2 linked regions of the Homo sapiens genome follow. The protein of the gene in region 1 interacts with the protein of each later gene in a pairwise test. Each region holds a gene or a part of one and is shown on either strand. Other genes may lie near its edges.

What was found.
Region 2: the proteins of POTEB3 (region 1) and MACO1 interact in binary tests that used the Homo sapiens proteins (3 or more experiments, as listed by UniProt).

The regions. Positions count from the first base shown.
Region 1 is NC_000015.10:21,423,498-21,430,778, reverse strand, and holds part of POTEB3 (POTE ankyrin domain family member B3), read left to right. Parts: intron 1-377; coding exon 378-515; intron 516-1,793; exon of another isoform or gene 1,794-1,900; intron 1,901-3,023; coding exon 3,024-3,094; intron 3,095-4,530; exon of another isoform or gene 4,531-4,751; intron 4,752-5,489; coding exon of another isoform or gene 5,490-5,494; exon of another isoform or gene 5,495-5,760; intron 5,761-7,281.
Region 2 is NC_000001.11:25,482,728-25,490,008, forward strand, and holds part of MACO1 (macoilin), read left to right. Parts: intron 1-1,388; coding exon 1,389-1,547; intron 1,548-2,885; coding exon 2,886-3,068; intron 3,069-6,445; coding exon 6,446-6,566; intron 6,567-7,281. UniProt on the Homo sapiens protein: Plays a role in the regulation of neuronal activity.

The sequences.
Region 1 (7,281 bases):
TTAGCCCCTAGCTAATTTTCTATCACAGCATATCAGTCTAGGGAAGCTGTGACAAAATCTTCACTTAAATCTTTGTCCACTTCAGATAAGTGGCCCTAGCATTGTTTCTTGCCCATCAAAGGACTTTAAATTAGTAGCTTCTGCTATGCAATACCCCACTGAGATAAGAGGTTTCCTTTTTGTCCCTTCCTTTTAACCTTGGTGGTATTTTACAAAGATGAACTCTTGAGCACCCAAGATGCTTATGTCTTTTAGCGCATGTAAATGTTTGATTCTGCATGGACAGGCAAGATGTCAAATTGGTAAAGTATATCAAATTAGCTTTTAAAATAACTTTATTACAGTTTCTAAAGGAGAAATTATCTCTGTAATTTTAGAACTGCCCTCATACTTGCTGTATGTTGTGGATCAGCAAGTATAGTCAATCTTCTACTTGAGCAAAATGTTGATGTATCTTCTCAAGATCTATCTGGACAGACGGCCAGAGAGTATGCTGTTTCTAGTCATCATCATGTGTAAGTGTTTACATGAAAAGGCTAGTTAATGCTAAATTGAGGTTTAAAATAATTATAACAATTGCATCTTACATATCAGGTGAGATGTCATAGTTTGGTTCAGGTAGTTTTAGAGTGGCAGTGAGTTAGTCCCCTGCATCAGCCAGAAATCAGACAAAAAGCAAGACAAGTTAGAAGTACCAATGGGTGCAGGATTCTTTACCTCAGGACTTTTAAGACCTTTATCCTTAGAGATCCCAATATTGTTCATTTCATCCAAGTATAACACCTATGCATGGCATAAAAAAGAGTATCACATCTTTGATTTTTCTGATTAGTTATTTGGGTCTTGAAATGTCCAGTTTAGCAGAAAGCCTTGTACTGTCTTCTGGGGACTGTCTCCTACATACTCCTTGAATTTTTCAAGAACCAAAGGGGTTCACTAAATCCAAGGAAGACAGTCCCTTTTATCAAGTCAGAAGGAGGAGAGAAAAAAGGACATTCCAATCATTCTGTTGTTTCCATTGTTTCTGTTGCTGCATTGTTGCCACTCAAACTGCTTCTGCTGCCTGGTAATTGTTGACCTTTGACACCAAGGTGCCCTTACTGATTCAGATCCCTCAAGTCTTCATGGGGATTCACACAGTGACTTTGAAGTTACAACATTTTTTAGTTCCCTTACCTATGCTTATATGCTCAGCCATTGTTCCCAAAGCACCAGCACCCTGCTCTGGCCGCTGGGCATCCTGACTTTATCCGCACACAAAGTGAGCAAATTGACCCTTCCTCCTGTATTCAGAACCTAATGTGGAACCCACATCTTAGCTAAGAATTAGCTGAGACCTTCATGGTAAGAGATCCTTTCAGGCCGTTGTTGGTCTTTTCTCTAGCAGATATGAGGTGGGCTTGTTATAAAGGGTCAGAGGGGTTCAAATAATGTGGCAGAAAGAGATCAGTGTTTGTTTCTTCTTCTTTGCTACCAGATCTACACAGTGAGGCACCTTTATATCCTGTGTAGAACCTTAGGCAGTAGAAAGTCCCATATGAGCCTTCCCCAAGCAGTGGCTCCCAGCTGTGGTTGGCCCCTTGAGTGATCTGATTTACATGATAATGAAAATCGTCCAAGCTACTTCCATCTCTAGCTCAAGATTTTAAAATATTTTCAAATTGTACCTCACAGGAAGCCATTGAAGAGAATTCTCAGAATCTCACGTGGGTTAAGTAAGTAGTGATGAGTCATGGACAAGAGCCAAGCCTTGCCCATGACTCATCACAAATCATGTGTAAAAGTAGGGCTTTGTGCCTGCTTTGGCGGCACATATCCTAAAATTGGAACAATACAGAGAAAGTTAGCACGGCTTCTGCATAAGGAGGCAGCACAACTCTTTGAAGCATTCCATATTTTGTGCAGTCACTGGAAGATCATTTCACTATTTGCTGGCTAGCTCTAAGGAAACAGTGTGAATCAAAGCAAAATGGGTGCCACCAAAATATCGAAATGTGATTTGTGCTGCAAAAATAGTCATGGAAGATGGTCTGTGAGATGATTTAGAGCTGAATAATGTGTTCAGTGCAAAATATATTATAAGTATGTACGTCAAAAATTAGAGAATGTCAATTTGCAGCTTCTTCATGAAAACTGAAAAAAAATAAAAGTAGAGTTTTGGTCTCCCATGTCAGCTGGAATTGAACATCAATATAAAGCATTATCCTAACAAACATCTGCTGGCTCAGAGTTTGAGTCTGTAGAGAAGGATCATTGCTCCAAGCCAGGTCTTAACATCCATTGGTTTTTCTGCCCTTAGCACAACAAATTGGTCAACTCCGTAATAGTGGACAATCACATTATCTACTTTAATGAGAGATTTATGAAAAAATTTAGTTACAAACTATGACACAGTTGAGATGCCCTGAATGATAAGCCATAAGGAGTAGGACAACTAAGAAGCAAAATTAGGACTTAATAACATTTCCTGAAAACTACAGCATTTGCATATTAGAACCTATGAACAAAATACACATGGGGTTTTATTTGGGATTCCAAGATAATTTTAGTCATAAAGTTTAGGAACAGATTATTCCATTGCTTTACTATTTCTCTGAGCATTTAAAAAATGTTACCTTGTTAAATCTTTATAACAACCTAGTGAAATAAGGCAGCAAAGTCCTCACTTTGTAGAAGAAGACATTGAGCCTAAGAGAAGAAAGTTGTCCAAGAACAAATAGCTGTTCATTATGGAGCTAGGACTTATGCAGAGTTGGGACACTTTCTATTATGTCATGCTAATGCCTGCTGATTTACTGGGTCACAGTGCCCTTGATTTATGAGCATTTCACCTAATTTTTTTTCTTCTTTAATTAGAAGCTTAAAGAAAAGTTTGTAGAATGTACTCATAAGTGTATGGGATAATACTGTTAAATTCTGATATTATGATATTGTTTGAAATACTCTAAGAATCTTACATTTGGTAAGTATTTTTTATATCAGTATTAAAATAGTAATTTGGTTTATTACATTTTTATACATAGAATTTGTGAATTACTTTCTGACTATAAAGAAAAACAGATGCTAAAAATCTCTTCTGAAAACAGCAATCCAGGTAAGACTTGTGATAATGAATTACTTTAGGTCAGTTGTCCACAATGTTTTTGGCATCAGGGACCGGTTTTGTGGAAGACAGTCTTTCCATGGGCTGGGGGAAGGTGGGGATGGTTTCAGGATTATTCAGCCATGTTTCATTTATTGTGCTACTTTATATTATTATTACATTGTAATATATAATGAAATAATTATACAACTTACCATAATGTAGAATCCGTGGAAACTCTGAGCTTATTTTTCTGCAACTAGATGGTCTCATCTGGGGGCAAAGTGAGACAGTGACAGATCATCAGGCATTAGTTTCTCATATGAAGCACACAACCTAGATCCCTCAGATGAGCAGTTCACAATAGGGTTCATGCTCCAATGAGTATCTAGTGCTATCACTGATCTGACTGGAGGCAGAGTTCAGGCGGTAATATGAGCCATGGGGTGTGGCTGTAAGTACAGGTGAAGCTTCCCTGGTTTGCCTGCTGCTCACCTCCTCCTGTGTGGTGTGGTTCATAATAGTCCATGGACTGGTACCAGTCTGTGACCTGGGAGTTGTGGACCCCTGCTCTGGGTGGTCCTACCGTAGATAAAAAAATAAAAGTAAGGAATTTTTGATCACAAAAGAACGCCAAAGCACAAGTCATGTTACATATCCTTGTCCCAACAAGGTCTCACTCTTACTGACTTCATTCCTCCTCATTTGAAGTTGGAAAGAGATACATTTACTTTGTTGGAACAAGATGTGTTCTCTACCTGCTGGTCAATTGTCTTGATAACAGTAATTTTGTTAGAACAAGATGCTCTGCTACCATTTACCAAAAGATTGTCATAATAAATATACAAATTGCCCAACTCTAGGCTCAGCAGATTATAATAAAAGTAGAAAAATGCTTCACATTAACAAAAATACTAGTATGCCACCTGGTTGTGGACACCTAATACATTGTATAATCCAAACTGGATGAGGACACCTTTAATTTAGCCATCTATTTATCAAAAAGCTTCTGTAAGTTAGGTTTTATAAGTTGCAGAAGACAAAGATGGAATAGATGTAGTTTTGATCTTTAAGGTGCTCATAATAGAGGTGTCTCTATTTCATTTCTGTGCTTTTTCAACAGAATTTACAAAGAAAACATTTCTATGTTTTCACTTGTCCACTTAACAAATAACTATCAAATGTCTTTTAGATACTAATCATTTTTCTAATGCTACAGAACACACACAATTAAAAATACAGACAGGAGCTTGTTATTATCATTGTCACTTTTATTATTTTACTACTTTATTCAGTGCTTACTGTGTGCTAGATGCCAACTGGAAGCTTATAATTATGATTTATTATGTATTAATTATGTGCCAGACATACGTGATGAGGAATGAAAGTTTTGAAAAAAAGTAGGTATGATTCAAAGTAAGCATGCAGAGTGAGAAGAATTTTTCTAGGTAAAGAAGCAGAAGAATAATTTTTGGCAGAAGGAACATGCAACAAGTTTGTGTGTTTGCCAGAAGAACATCTGATGAGATTGCCTGTTTGGCAGGAAGAGCAACAACTGCAAAAGACAGGATGCCGAGTGAACTTTGCAGGGTTTCTGAGCAGTTCACTTTTGCTAGTACCAAAAGTGTGAGACACCAGAGTTTGGGAATGAGGTGAATACTTAGCTAAGGCAAGTTTATGATAGACTTTTTTAATACTATAGAAATGAGTAGGTCTTACCCTGTGGGCCATGGGAAATTTACCAGGTAGAATGCTTTGGACTGTAAATACTAGATGAGCAGTGGCTAAAACAGTAGGAACCAGAGTTGTTTTGGTTGTTCAGTGATATCCTAGGATCCCATTTGTCCCTCTTTCAGCTGTGCTGTTGGCAGTGTTTTCTTCATGTTTCCTTTCATGGTTGGCTAATCCGCAGCAGCTCCAAACATCTTGTTCTCACAACACAACATTTCAAGGGCTGCTTTTCTTCACATGTGTCTTTTAAACAGGGAGAAAACTTAGAAGCATGCAAGGGGCTTCCTGTAACATTTCATTGGCTGGGTCACACCACATGCTCATTCCCAAACCAGGCAATGGGATGGCAAATACATGATTAGCTTAGAATAAACATTTCTCTTTCTGAGGCTGAGGAGGGGGATTGGGATAATAAATATCCCAATAGACTTGTGTTTCTTCTGCAAGAAAGAATAAGGAATGGCTATTGATAGGAGCCAACAATGTGTGCTGCAGGGGCTCATTGGAGAAATTTGAGCAGGGGAGTTACAAGATTAAATTTGAATATTAAGGCATATTCTGCTTATGGTGTAAAATGGGTTAGCAAGCTTTTTCTGTAAAGGACCAGGTGGGAAATATTTTAGACTATGTGGTCTCTGTCATATCTACTTAACCAGGCTGTTGTCTGTTGTTGTAGTGTGAAAGCCACCATGATTATATGTAAGCAAACAGGCATGACTGAGCTCCTATAAAACTTTATTTACAAAGCCAAAAGGCAGATTGGATTTGTCCTGTGGCCTATAGTTTGCTGGGATTGATGGAAGATAACCATGTAAAGAAACCAGGAGACAAAGGAAGCTTTTGCAGTAGTCATCTATAGTTTCCATGTCACACATCCTTGGACTAGTATCAATGTATTCTAAGGTTTTCACCTGCCCATGGTGAAATAAAGTTTGGAATCCCCATTACTCATTTTAATGTGTTGGCCTTTTTTTGGTGTTATGCTTTTTTCATTTGTTTTGCTTAATTTTTTTCATGTGAGAAATAACATTAATAGTTGGAAGGCTTTTTTGTAATAAAAGCCATTTTGTAAATGTTTATGTTCTCAGTGGAAGTGGTAATATAAAGCAGAGGCAGAAGAGAGGTATAGTCAATATGATTTAGTGATAATTGAATGAGAAAGGTTTGGAGGACAGAGAGAAATGTCAGATAATTTACAGGTTTCCACGTTGTACACTAGTATTTAAGCTGGGCATGAGGAAGGAGTACGAAATTTTCTCCATGACCTGTGTGAGTCACAGCTTCCAGAAAAGAAAGAGAGCAAGGAGCATATTAAGGAAGCACAGCAAAGTCAGTCCTAGAGTGCCCTGCTTGACTTCATGTCATAGTTCTGACTTCTAAAAAATCATTTTCTGCAAAATGTGCTTTGTGTTTTTCCCCTCTTGCAGCCTGCAGCCAAACAGAATCCCTTTAGCAGGGCATTTTTGTGTTCTTCCTTTAAACAAAGCAACATATAAATAACAAAAAAGAAGTAAGAGAAAGAGTATTTTTTGTATAGGCTAGCATTTAACTTAAACTTGAGAGCGAGTACTAGGATTATACTTAGAATTTATGGACTGGGTAGGAAGACTAGATAGAAATCTAAAGATTGCTGACTCAAACACAGTGTGATTTTTTTGCTTTATTCTCACAGCTCTGAATTCACAACTATTAGTTATATTCATATACACTATAACTTTATAAAGCACCTTCCCAAACAAATATTAAGTGATTTATTATAATTTCTATGACTTATTATAGAATTGACTTTCCAAGTGTTCATGAGAATTATTGGGAATTTGCTACATAGTATCATCTCAGCTGTGTCCACATGAGCTAGCTGTCACCTTGTCTTAATGAATAATGGCTCACTAGGAATATTGGTTTTGGCATTAAAATGATCTACATCTTAATACAGATAGGACCAGGGACCACTCTTGAACGTTAATGTCTAAGCATCTTAAAGGTACACATAAGGCTTTCATAATCTGACTTCTGCCCTATTCTACATCTTTAGCCCTTTTCCCTGTGTGCCCTTTCTCTGGCATTACTGAGTGGCTCTTAATGCCCTACTCACTCCTCCTTCTATTGCAGGCAAATACTTTCACTCTTTCAGGCCTCGCTCCTGCTCTTGCTGCTGTGTGGCATGCTGTCACCCTTTCTTGCCCTCTACCACTTTTAATCTAGCTAGCCTCAATATTTAAGTCTCTGCTTGGGCAGGTGTTCTAGAAAAGCCATCCCTGACAGGCTTTATTTTCATTCTTTTTAAACCCTAACACCTAGCATGTATGTAGCAGGACTCAATAAGAAATTTCTGAGTAAAATAAAGACTGTTTTTACAAAGATGATGTGCAAGACTGTCCTCTGCAGTCTTGGAGCAGAGGGGACAGACATGTGGAGGAATAGTGTACAGTTCAGGTGGTAAAGGTGCAGTAGAAAAATCAGTGAGG
Region 2 (7,281 bases), on another chromosome or scaffold:
CTGGAGCTAGACTGCCTGGATGACCTTGGGCTGCATCCTTTCCTAGCCTAGAGTTCTTCATCTGTAAAAATGGGAATAGGAATTGCATTTGGCCCATAGTTGTACAGATTATAGGATTAAACCCTATAGAACAGTGCCTGGCCCATAAGTTCTCATTAAATAGTAGCTGTTGTTATTATTCCTTCTGGCATATATTTAATCATGGCCTTCCTTGTCTTATTGTTTAATCATTTAAATTATGTATTTCTTGGTTCCTATTTCTTTGTTCCTAATTGTGAAGTTTTCCCATGAAGAAAGAGACTTGATTTTATAGTTTTCGTTTGTTTGTTTTTTGTTTTTTGAGACAGAGTCTCACTCTTGTCACCCAGGCTGGAGTGCAGTGGCATGATCTCAGCTCACTGCAACCTCCACCTCCTGGGTTCAAGTGATTCTCCTGCCTCAGCCTCCTGAGTAGCTGGGATTACAGGCACGCGCCACCATGCCCAGCTAATTTTTGTACTTTTAGTAGAGATGGGGTTTCACCACGTTGGCCAGGCCGGTCTTGAACTCCTGACCTCAGGTGATCCGCCTGCCTCGGGCTCCCAAAGTGCTGGGATTACAGGCATGAGCCACTGCGCCTGGCCGATAGTTTTTGTTGACCATTTTCAGCACTACATATGCATAGTAGGTCTCCAATACCTGTCACTTAAAGTGAAACTATTACTGCAGTAAAGAAAATAGATGGAACAAGAGTAAGGAATTGACGAGAAAAGATAGGCTTCATTTTACAGATGGAGTTCTCTTATGATTCTTAGAGCATGTAATTTGTTCCTTTTTTCATTGTTATTGAGTCTCGTGAGCTCTTCTGCCGCAATCACCAGAGTTGTGAACGTCATTCAGCAAGGATGCTGCAATTTCTGGAGGTCGTCGCAGACCGTTTTCTTCTAGGCCCATGGTGGGACGCAGTCTCAGACAGTAGATTCTGATTTATCAAAATATCACAAAGCATTAAGTGGTAGGTCATGTGCTAGTTGTTTGAACATATTTCCCTTGCTGAGGGCATGAAAAGCCACCAGAAGGGAGCCTTTAGTCTTCAGCCACCCTCTCTGCTGTCCCTTTCTCCTTTATCAGCAGCTCGGATGGATATTCACAAGCACCATACTCACCTGTCACTATTCATAAACAGGGGGAAGTTGAAAGTTACACCCCAGTAGGAAGAGGTAGGGACCCAGGTGGAATCATTCAACAAAATTAACCCAGTTGCAGACAGGAGTCCTCATCATGGCAGGAACTGCCAGCGGGGTCCTTTTTCTGCCATTCACCCAGCAGTCCAGGACCCCCACCAGGTCCCTCCCAGCTCTGTGGGTGCCCTCACCTAGATGAAAATGCTGCATTTCTCATTCTCCTAGGCTGGAACAAGACATTAAAAAGTTAAAGGCTGACCTGCAAGCCAGCAGACAAGTGGAACAAGAGCTCCGCAGTCAGATCAGCTCCCTTTCGAGCACCGAGCGAGGGATCCGCTCAGAAATGGGCCAGCTTCGGCAGGAGAACGAGCTGCTGCAGAACAAGTACGTGCACCTTTCAGGCCTTTGGCCGTAAGCCCGGCAGCTTCACTGCTTCTCCTGTTGCCAGGGGTTGGAGCACAAGATTTATGGTGACAGAGACCTGCTGAGAGGTTTTTAAATAAAATGTTTAAAATACTTTATTTAGTACCAGATATTCAACATGTTTATAAAATCTATAAAAACTTATTTCATTGCCACAAAACAGTTTATTAATATTACTGTTTTTGTCTTCTCTCATTTAATAACTTCTTAGTTTAAAATAGTTATTGAGTTTTTGGATAGTAAAATTGACAAGAAGTAGTTCTGTCACATTTTGAAAATTTTGCTCCTTTGAGTGAAAATTTCTAGAGGATTTGACTATATTTACTTTTATTTCCAGAACTAAAAGATGACATTGAACTTTGATTTTATTTGAAAAGGCAGGCAGAAAGCCAGGTCTTCTGTGTGAATTCATTTAGGCTTTTGATTAGTTCATTCTGGAATTACTTCTTAACTCAGTGTAGGTCTGTCCTTTTTTCTTTTTTTAAATCTCCCAGCAATGTGTGCCCGTGGTAGTGATGATCATTACAGGCTGTTGGCTTTCTGGGCTTTCCCTGTTGAAAGAGGAGTTCAACATTTTTAAGGAATGTAACTCAAAAGCTAGGGCATTACAGGCAAATAACCTCTCCATTGCCTCTGACCAGCATTTGTGGTGGTTCTAGCATTGATATGTAGAGAACATCCCAGTGATAAACTCACCTCATGCTGATAGGTAAAGCTGGGGGTGGTAGTAAGCAGGAAATATGGCTGAAATTTCTATCTGAAATTAAGCATCCTGTGACTCTAAAAGAGGATTTGGGGACACTGTGAGCAAACATCCTGAGCTGGAAAGGAAAAGCTGTAGTAGGCTACAGCAAAATTGTATTCAGGAAAAATAAAAACCTTCCCCTTTCCACCCCTTACCTTAGTTTCACTGGGGCTGGTCCCATCAGTGGTTCTTTGGTGGGACTGAAGTTCTTTCAGGGTGCTCTGGAACATTAGAATTAGTTCTACAATTATCTTCCCCTCTGTTCAAAATTTGTTTTACCCTGTTTTCTGGATGACCTTTTGTAGATCACTTACTTGAACAGAGCAGAGGCTAGGTCTTAATCTCTGTTTTGTAAGGCAGCTTGTTTATTGGTGTTTAGGAATTATTAAAGAATAACAGTGTGTTTTCCTCAGGCATTCTGGGCATTGACATTTTTGATTTGCTGTTCAAACCTCCTGTTTAATTGGCCTTAAGGTGATAAAGAGATGTTTCTCAAGGGTTTATAGTGGGCATTTGTAATTTTAAGACTTTATATGACAATCATTTCCATATAGGTTACATAATGCTGTGCAAATGAAGCAAAAAGACAAGCAGAATATCAGCCAGTTGGAGAAAAAGCTAAAAGCTGAGCAGGAAGCCCGAAGTTTTGTAGAGAAACAGTTAATGGAAGAGAAAAAGAGGAAGAAGTTAGAAGAAGCCACTGCTGCCCGGGCTGTTGCGTTTGCTGCTGCATCTAGGTATGTCCATGTCACCTGAGTGTTTAATCCAAGGTTGGCTTTCCTTTACCAACAAAGACATGGGAATTTGGTGCCTTGGGCAGGATTGGACGTACAGCAATCATGCACGGATGGATTGCTTTTAAGTACTGTTTTATTAACTGGTTTAAACTCCATGTGTGCAAGCTTGCACTATCTTATAACAGCTTTATCCCTCAGTGACCTCATCTATAAAGTGGGATGAGGGAATCACCATGTTTCCCATACCTGGGAGGCAAAGTACTGCTCATAAAAAGGTTTCCAGTCACTTTTTGTCAGACTGATGATTACTAAATGCATTGAGAGATTCTATCTGGAAGTTCGTTCCCTTTAGAGAGCTATCATTACTCTCCACTCTTAGGTATATGTGTTTCTGAAGTTTTTATCTTAAAATGGAAGAAAGATAAAATCTTGGTTGCCCAAGCACTGTGTACTGGCTGCTCAAATGGATATCAGCAAACTGTCAAATGAAATGGAAAAAAAAAGTGAAACATAAGTCTCTACTAGATGGAATTACATTTATGGCATAATGAAAATTGGGGACTACCTCCTATACCACTGGAAAGTACCCCTGTGTGCAAGTATTCCAAAAACTATTAGATAGTTAAGAGCTTTTTTTTTCTTTTTGCTTCTACTTCACTTATCACTTTTTCCTTTGTTTTCTTGACTAGTGAAGTCCCTCTGCATGTGGGAATCAGTTAGGTGTTTGCAGATATAGAGCGAGGGTAAATTATTATTTATTTCACTTTTAAATTCCATCCTAATTTGTATCTACGTGGTATAATTCAACTGTAATTTTTCCTTGAATTTTGCTTTGTCGTAATTAAAGTTAAGTAATTTAACTTTTGGCATGTTGATAGCCTTCTTTGTGGGTTCTGGCATTTGCAGAATAATTGGTGAATCATTTCACCTTTTAGGAAATAACAGCAAGTGAGAACTCTCTCCTGTGTGATCCTGCCTCCCCCCAGCAGATGGCTGAGCTGGCTTGGCCCATCAGCATCTATACAGACTTACAAGGCCCTTGACTAGCCTGCCTACAATGTGGGATTGTTTGTTTGTTTGAAGATGTATTTGCATTCTGAAGCACTTAAACTTGCAGGAGATGTTCTTGAACAGTCATCTAGTGATGACTGCTCTCCTCTCTCCTCAATTCATACAGCACCTGCCCTTTCTGAAAAATTCCACTCAGGAGGACATAGCAGTTCCTTAACGATATTGCTTAGTGTCTCCCATGCCTGAGAATCAGTAAGTTGATTTCAGTGTCTACCCCAAATCCCTTTTGCTTCCAGTTAAGCTTATTTATCTTATCCCTGGATAGTCCTTGTTTTTCATAACTTATTCTTTTTTTCCTTCTTTTTGAGACGGAGTCTAACTCTGTCACCCAGGCTGGAGTGCAGTGGCGCGATCTCAGCTCACTGCAGCCTTTGCCACCCAGGTTCAAGCGATTCTCCTGCCTCAGCCTCCCAAGTAGCTGGGATTACAGGCTCCTGCCACCGTGCCCAGCAACTTTTTGTATTTTTAGTAGAGACGAGGTTTCACCATCTTGGCAGGCTGGTCTCGAACTCCTGACCTCAGGTGATCTGCCCACCTTGACCTCCCAAAGTGCTGGGATTACAGGCGTGAGCCACCACACCAGGCCTGCCATAATTTATTCAGTAAATCTCAGGGCATAAATCTCTGACTGGACCTTCCGTTTTGGTAGGCAGAGAACACCTACTTTCTTCATTGGGCTGTTTCTGGAACCTAGACAGTACCAGCTTTGGACTGGCCATTGCCATCATCTCTTTTAGCTCAACCTTATGATAGCCCTGAGAAGCAGCTCAACAGTGTGCCCTTATTTTTCTGTTTACTCCAGTCTTGTGGCAACTTTATGACAAGAAAGACAAAAGTCCCAATGCGTAGCCCCTCAAAAGTGGGGGGAAAATTTTTTTCTAGTTCACCGCCCCCTGCTGGACATAGTACATGTTCAGTTCTATCTGGCTTTGTGTGTATTGTCTCAAGTCTCATGGCCTGGTGGGAAGTTTGCTGGATTGGGAAGCCAGAAAATCTCAGTTCTTATCCCTATTCTAAGACCTAAAAGCTAGGTAACCTTGAACTAGTATTTTATCTATGTAGCCTCAGTTTTCTTATCTGGAAAATGGGATAAATATACCCTAGGTTGTTATAAGGATTGAAGAAGGTAGTATGGGTAAAGTACCTTAGTGTCTGGCTCATCTAGACACTCAGTAATAATTATTGTATATATGTATGTATTTTGAGACAGGATATCATTCTGTCACCCAGACTGGAGTGCAATGGTGCAGTCATAGCTTACTATAACCTGAAACTCCTGGGCTCAAGTTGTCCTCTTGCCTCAGCCTCCTGAGTAGCTGGGACTACAGGCATGTGCTACTATGCCCAGCTATTTTTTAAATTTTTTGTAGAGACAGGGTCTCTCTGTGTTGCCCAGGCTGATCTCAGACTCTGGGCTCAAGCAGTCCTCCCACCTTGGCCTTGGGAGTGCTGGGATTACGGGCATGAGCCACCATGCCCAGCCCAGTTATTTTAGAGTATTATTGAAATTATCAAAGGACACAGAGAACTGAGCAGACTGAGCCAAAAGCTAAAACCTGACAGACCCTGGAGTATAAAAGAAATTAAAAGAAATATAAATCCCACAATACAAGTAAACCTATAGTCTTTTTTTTTTCTTTTTTTTGAGACAGAGTCTCACTTTGTCACCCAGGCTAACGTGCTGTGACACCATCTCAGCTCAGTGCAGCCTCTGCCTCCCAGGTACAAGCAATTCTCCTGCCTCGGCCTCCCGAGTAGCTGGGATTACAGATGTGTGCCACTACACCCAGCTAATTTTTGTAGAGAGAGGGTTTCACTGTGTTGGCCAGGCTGGTCTTGAACTCCTGACCTCAAGTGATCCACCTGCCTTGGCCTCCCAAATTGCTGTGATTACAGGCGTGAGCCACTGCACTCGGCCAACCTATAGTCTTTTTTAAAATTTTATTTATTTATTTATTTATTTGTTTTTGAGATGGAGTCTCACTCGGACGCCCAAGCTGGAGTGCAGTGGCACGATCTGGACTCGCTGCAACCTCCACCTCCTGGGTTCAAGCAATTCTTCTGCCTCAGCCTCCCCAGTAGCTGGGACTACAGGCATGTACCACCATGCCCAGCCAATTTTTTTTGTATTTTTAGTAGAGACGGGGTTTCACCATGCTGGTCAGGTTGGTCTCGAACCCCTGACCTCAAATAATCTGCCTGCCTCGGCCTCCCAAAGTGCTGGGATTACAGGCCTGAGTCACAGGGCCCAGCCCCAACCTATAGTCTTTTAAATCACTTTATTTCCTTCTCTTCTTTTTCAAAAGGGGAGAATGCACCGAAACCTTACGGAATCGGATCAGAGAACTAGAAGCAGAGGGCAAGAAGCTCACGATGGACATGAAGGTGAAAGAAGACCAAATCAGAGAACTAGAACTAAAAGTCCAGGTAAGGGGGGAACAAAAGACTTCCCTTGTATTTGAATTCCACTTTTATGCTAAACTTGTGCTCTGTGTTGCAGTGTAGAGATGATGCCTTTTAATATAGATCAAATCTCATTGCATCTGAAAAATCTCTATGTGACAAAAAGATTTGAAGTTCTAATCTTGTCCAGCTCATTTCAAGTCATATTAATGTAGCCAGATTCTAATACAAACCAGAAATGTTGACAATCCCTTGGTATGTTTTATACCAGGATTTAACTTGCTGTAGATTCATTTAACTTTTTCAGGTTATAGGCCAGATTAGTGTCCTTTGAAACTTACACACCTCCTTTTAGCCCCAACCCTCTTTCTATTGCCAGGGGACTGACCCTCCTGCATGGCTCTGAGCCTTGCAGATTGTTGTTCATAGCAGTGAATGATAGGAAAGGTGCTAGTGCTATGGACGTAGCCTGTTTTATGGGCTGTGTATACTTTAGCCAAATATTTGTCATTTAAACTAATGTCATATATTGTAAAGTTACAGTAATTTGAGCCAGGTGGGACAAGTGAAAAATTACTGTCAAGTCAGTGGACTAGAATGATGGCCTGGAGTACAGTACCGAAAAAAATACGAAAAAAAGTAAAGGTGGCATCAGAGATAGATGGGAAAGGTAACGATTAGTCAGTAAAAGGCTTTGGAATAGCTAAATAACTGGAGAAAAAAAATTAGAAACTCATCT